2 separate regions of the Homo sapiens genome follow, and region 1 is reported to be linked to region 2. Evidence: microRNA targets listed by miRTarBase, many of them from high-throughput screens and not tested one by one. Region 2 holds a microRNA gene; the other region holds the end of a gene's coding sequence.

Evidence for each region. The annotated mature microRNA hsa-miR-199a-5p reads CCCAGUGUUCAGACUACCUGUUC and lies in region 2 at 859-881, shown strand. An mRNA with a match to its seed (bases 2 to 7 or 8) in the 3' UTR can be bound and repressed. Matches are read on the target gene's strand: a 7mer-m8 pairs with bases 2 to 8, a 7mer-A1 pairs with bases 2 to 7 and ends in A, and an 8mer does both.
Region 1: the mRNA of COL19A1 is a reported target of hsa-miR-199a-5p. Seed matches in the 3' UTR shown: 7mer-A1 at 2,507-2,513 and 7mer-m8 at 1,239-1,245.

What each region holds. Positions count from the first base shown.
Region 1 is chr6:70,206,702-70,209,829 of GRCh38, reverse strand. It overlaps COL19A1 (collagen type XIX alpha 1 chain), which reads right to left. Exons shown (of 51, transcript NM_001858.6): 50 at 2,852-2,929; 51 at 1-2,683. The coding sequence ends at 2,556. Among named protein-coding and RNA genes, the nearest start is that of COL9A1, 95 kb to the left of the region's middle.
Region 2 is chr1:172,142,345-172,145,472 of GRCh38, reverse strand. It overlaps MIR199A2 (microRNA 199a-2), which reads left to right and starts at 829; the gene lies at 829-938. The region is part of intron 14 of DNM3 (dynamin 3); the gene reads right to left. It overlaps DNM3OS (DNM3 opposite strand/antisense RNA), which reads left to right and starts at 638. Exons shown (of 4, transcript NR_103486.1): 1 at 638-819; 2 at 1,036-1,108.

The sequences.
Region 1 (3,128 bases), not on the chromosome of region 2:
ATCATGTGTACAGAGCTGAGGCAGGAAAAAGTATCTGAAGGTAAATAATAGAGTAGGGTGAGAAAGGCTTGTACCATGTGGATACAGCCTTGTTTCTCTAGTTACGTCAAATTTAGTCATATTTCCCAGTTACAAAAAATGAGTTTGTGTCATTGTGACAAGTCCACTTTGTAATATGCATCACACAATATTATATTTCCCCATCCCATCAAATTACCTGAATAAATCCAAATCCTTGAAATAGGAATTAACCAGTCAAGCCTTAATGGTATTTAGAAAGATTTCTAAATATACAATTCATAAGAAAGAATGCATGACATATTTTGTAGAATAAAAATGAACAGAGTTAATAAAACAAGAAAATGAATTGTCTTTTTATGTCTATGACAAGAACAACTCAAAAACCAAAAAACAAAAAAAGTTGATTACCATCAGCAAAAAAGTCCATGAAAACATTAAAATGATAAAATAAATATTTTTAAATTAGCAAACAGGCAAAAAGATAAACAACCTATTAATATGAAAAAATAATCTTTGAAAACATATAAAATATTTAGCTTTATGACAAATTCAAGTAAATTAATATGAGTGGCAGATAAGTTGTAAGCGTTTAGAAAATTCAACAAATTAAAAGCTCAAGATATACACATAGCACCAAATTTTAGATCTATGTACACTTTTTCGGGATAAATTACCATTTTACTAAGAAAACACATACGTATGTCCCAATTGTGTAAGTTTAAAACACAGCACCATTGTAGGTATTGCACAAGAAAGAAAACGAAAAAAAAAAAATCAATGTCAAAATGCTTACAATAAATAAAATAACCTTGGAAAATAAATAAACTTGGAATTGAAATATACAGCATAATTCAATATGAAATACCTAAAATGTTATAGGTATGCACAGCCATTGTAGACAGTACCTGACCAGCAGTTCATTAATCTATAATGAAAACCGGTTCAAATCACGGATGCATTGGAACAAACCCTGCCTTAAATTAGGCACATTCCTCAGACACAACTCTGTTCACAGCTTTTTCCAATGTCAGTGGGCTAGCCTTTCTAAACTCATTTTTCAGTAAACAGACAAAAGCAATCATCCTGTTTTAGCCAAATTGAAATCTGCACTGCTCCTTGAAGAGCTGTGAGTCCTGATTGCTGTGGCTGGCAGGCTCTTGCAGCATGTTCTCACATCTGTGGGACCCACCATCTAGATTTCTGCAACATCCTCATGCCCAGTGTTCTAGAGAATCAGTGCCTGCCAATCAACAGTTCCTCAATGAATGTACAGCTAACCAACAGAAAGACTGTTTAGGCATTTGATGATCACTGTATTTTTGTTTCTTTTCAGAGGACATGGTTTTAGAGTGGGTGTGAACTCTTTGGTCTGAGCACTAGTTGCATATCCAGTCCTGTGGTTTTCCTTTGTTGAGCTGTACCTCTTGCTGCAGCTTCTGGAGAAATACAATTCTCCTTAAGAGCTTTTGGGCTTCACCTTCTTAACATGCATTTGCTGACACTACACATTCATCTTCTAGGACAAGTGAGTCCATTCTATACGTATCCCATCCTTTGTTTTGATGGTGGCTTCTTGTCTTAAAGTCTGAGGGTGATGAGGTCATAAGGATAATGGATACAAGGGCCCAAAGATCTTGCTAGGCCACTGAAGCTTTAAGAGTACCAAAGACAGCTTGGTGGCTTCACCACCAAGCACCTTGTAGGGAAAACAGCTTTCTGTTTACCAAATGAGAGACTGAGTGAGGGGACCACAGAATATTAGGCTTTTTTTGCAGAACTCATACAAAACTGGAATTTGATACTCCCTTTTCATGCAGTACTTATTCATGCCAGTGGTGATTGCTTTGAATTGAGCTCATTATACAGAATTAACAAAATCATTTCAGTAGTTGGCTATGCTGGGTGTTTGGGCTCCCTGATAAAACAGTTTCCTGCATTTTTTTTTTGAAAACATAAATTGTAAAATGAAGTTCTTATTGCCTATTTTTCTGCATAAGTAGGATAGATGTAGATGGTATAAAAATTCTTAAGTTATAAAAAGTAGTCAAAAAACATTCAACAGGAGCAATGCACTATATCAAAAAAGTTGACGAGATGTTTAGCAATGATAGTAAATTTAAACACCAAGGAAAAGATAAGTCTGAAACTTTAAAATTCAGAAATCAAAGGCCAACCACATGTTGATGAGTCTACAAAATGGATATCATCATCAGTCTACTAAGTCACAAGATGCAATTTCCTTTTGAAGAAGAACTAACGATAAGATTTACTTGCATATTTCATATAAAACTCTGAGTAAAAATCATAGCAATTGTAAAGCAAAACATATGGAATGAATTTGGGAAAAATCAAAAAATGCTGATTTGCAATTGCTATAGGAATAGGATTCAAACGGTTGCTTTTAATGCCTGGCTTACTCCCAAAAAAAAAAAAAAAAAAAAAAAGCAACCCACAGATGATGAGGGTTTGACGGTATTAAGAGAGCTCCAGTGGCAAGGAAATGTTACCAGGAACCAAGTCTTCTTCAGGTGTGTTCAATTCCCACCTGTGCGCTGATGGGCATGAGACACAGGATAGAGGCAATCTTCTGGGTTACATCTTCCACTGGGTCCTGGGGGGCCCTGTGGGCCTGGGGCACCTGGTGAGCCTGGCAAACCCAGAGCTAACGACATAAAAAAAAAATTACAATGCAGATCACATATGGCCCTTCCTCTCTCCCACCCTCTAGCCAACATGGATCACTCGACTTGACATATAAGGACCCTAGGGGAGAAGCATGGTTCTAATTTGTAAAGGCTTGCTTGTGTTGTGAAGACAATATCCCACTTACCTGAAGTCCCAGGAAGACCTGGACTCCCTGGCAGCCCAATTCCAGGTTCACCTCTTTCTCCCTTCTGTCCTCTGTAGCCTAAGTGAGAAATATATAAAAAAGAGACACACAAAAAGGGTTCTATGGCAACACAGCACAGAGAAGAACCATTTTCTGAGTCTGTGATAATTATGTGATACATTTGCTTAAAATAAATAGTATATTAGCTAACTGTTTTGCATTAACCACATATTAAACTTACATATCAAACAGATTGGGTATAATAGGGCAATGAGGA
Region 2 (3,128 bases):
GCCTGCAAGCTGCTGACAGATTCAACAGACAGGAGAAGGAGGGAGAGAGAGAAGGAGAGAAAGAGAGAGAGAGCGGGAGGGAAGGAGGGAGGGAGGGAGAGAGAGGGAGGGAGAGGGGAAGAGGGGGAGAGAGAGAGAGAGAGAGAGACAGACAGACAGACAGACAGACAGAAACTTATCTGCCCTTTTTGACGAGTGAAATACCAGAAAATAAAGTGCCACAGGAAAGCTCAAAAAGGTTTCCAAATGAGCTCTGCCTTCCAGTGTTCAACTTTCTGTTTACTATTTCATCTACCCTCTATCTTCAAATTACTTCTCTAGCCTGGGTCAGACAGTAAATTTGTACTTCTACACTAACTCACTTTCAGTTGGCCACAGCCGAACTGTACATCTTGACTCTTTTTTTTTTACAGCTTTTCCATACTGGGGCCCACTTCCTGCCCAGTTGAGGAAAAAAATCTGGCCTGAAGATGAAATGACTGCTTAACGTTACACTAAAACATCTGGTACCATTTTATGCACAGACCCATGTCTGAGAGCAGGCGATTCTAGCGGTCTCTCCAGCGGCACAGCGCATACCCAAACCTCCCCAGGGTGACATCATCCCATATATGGACTCTCCAGCCCAGCCCTCCCCCTTTTCCTGGTCCTAAATTCATTGCCAGTTCCCCAGTCTGCAGCAAATGTGCCACGTCAAGACTGGAAATCACAGCCCTTGAGTGTGTCTCAGTCAGCGCAGCAGAATTCAGGGGGGAAAGCTGAATGCAACCCCTGGTGCAGGAAGGGAGGCTTTTCCTGAGGACCGGGAGAGGATTTTAAGTACATAGAAGGAAGCTTCTGGAGATCCTGCTCCGTCGCCCCAGTGTTCAGACTACCTGTTCAGGACAATGCCGTTGTACAGTAGTCTGCACATTGGTTAGACTGGGCAAGGGAGAGCAACGCCATGGACCGCTGGGGACAAAATGGGCTGTTTCCAAGGAGAAGACATTTGTTTGCTCCTTTTTTGAATCTCATATCCAGTGTTTTTCTTCACAGGTTTTGCACACTAGGGACCAAGAAGCCCTCGGGGACACTGCTGAGAAAAGACTGCCGAAGGGAAGACCAGCGGGTAAGGCCTTCTTGACTGCTCACCTGGTCTGTGACCAAGGGAACCTAGGTGGGGAGCCCATGATTTGTGTTAACATGCAAGGGAAACAGAGGTACATGTGTGATGGGTAGAGATGTATTTAATTTTAAAAGAGCAAAAGTGTGTGGTATATAGCGATTTACTGTTTTTTTTTTTTTTATTTCTGAAGATTGATAATTCAAGTGTTTTCTTAAAGGTTTTCCCACTTCAAAATGAAATATGAAAAAACTCATTCCAGACACTTAAGAATAGTTTAATGAGGCTACTTTTGAATTGTTTAATAATAATTCAAAGATTTAAAAACTTATATGGATGAAGGCTGTATGTATAACTTTTAACATCCCAGGACTGAAGTCATTTTTCCCCAAAGTAAAGAATACTTGCTGGTTTTTAAATGCTATATGGATAGTGCTTTTCTGAAGATTTCCTTCTGTAATATAAACAACAGGAATAATAGTACCTAACAATAAAAGAAGAACCTGCCAAGTCTTGCCTACCAGACAATGCAGATGGGATTTGCCCAGAGAAGAGCACCGACCCACAACTTATTGAGTCAGCAACTGAGTAAATCAGGGAATAAAAACCTCTATCTTTAGATACCCCTGTAAATATCTGTTTTACATTTTTTTTAAATCAAAGAGTGGTTAATAATTGCTGCTCAGCTGAGCCCTCTTGCCTATAGCTTACAATGCTTCCACTTCTCTGAGCATTTAAAATAAGGCACTTTGTCTAGAAACCCACTGATAAAAAAGGAATTTGTAAACGAAGGCAGAAGTTTTCTTTGGTCAGTTTCCAGCTGTCCTGGAGGTGAAAGAGGGTGGGAGAGGGGGAGGAAGGTGGGAGGGAAGAAAACCCTCAAGCTGAATGAAATCCTAATAGAGAAAATAATAGAGCAAGTCTGGATTGCAATGTGATCTGTGCTGAACTTTAGAGGTCGGCCCCTTAAAGAAAGTTCTGGAAAAATGTTATTGCCTCATCCCTAATTTTCTTAACCCCCATTAATTTCTATTCCGAAACAATTCTATATAATGAAAACATCTCTTCTACAGGGTTTGTGAAAAATAAACATAATCTCTTTTGTCCTCCTTTAAAGTTACAGTGGTTCCTGAACAAATTCTTTTCTAAGTTATACATTTTGCAACAATTCAAAAATTGACTCAAGTTCTCTTTAGCAAAATATTTTATTATAAAAGATTCCCTAAGTTTTCTTTTGTCAAAACAACTTACTTTAAAAATTACCCTTCTGATCACCCCAAAATGTGTATAAAGAAAACATTAAGTATTCTCATATATTCATGATTATTAGTTAAAATATAAACAGCAAGGAGAAATTTAGCTACTTTCACTTAGATGATATAGTAAAGTTATCCTTTCATTTTCTATTGTGACTTGGAGAGTTCCATATTAATTATTTTTAGTAGAACAAATGAGATGTTAAAAATCTATATAGTTTCTTTTACATAAGAAAACTAAAAAAAGTAACTTAGAGGAGCTCATTTTTTCAAGAAATATATTTTTTCTAATTGATACAATTACTGAAGAGGAAAAATAGCTAACAAGGTACTTTGGTAATGTTTTTCTCAAATTTTCTGGGTTTTTTTTTTTTTTTTACTCTAGAAATGATTACATTTCAAAATTTGCTTTCATTTAATGTATATTTAATTTCAATTTCTTTCTTCATGTTAAACGGTCTTTTTGTTTCAAAGAAATGAATCCCTATGGGTCCCTCACCTATTTTCTCCCTCAGGATGACTTTTAGTCTGGAGATAGAAGGGACATAAGGGTGCCTCTGGCATAAGTACAGGAGTAGAAATATAAGAATTACTTTGTAAAAGGATAACCAAGGAGTTCCTGCACATGCTTGATGTGGCTCTAGCGACTTATTTTCGAGGCAAAGTTTTAACAAATGAAAACGAATAGTACTTATTTTTCAATTATATGGGCTAAATTAAAGATCAAAGGTAAAAGCTCATTTTATAAAGCTCTGCTGAATGAAGGCAGG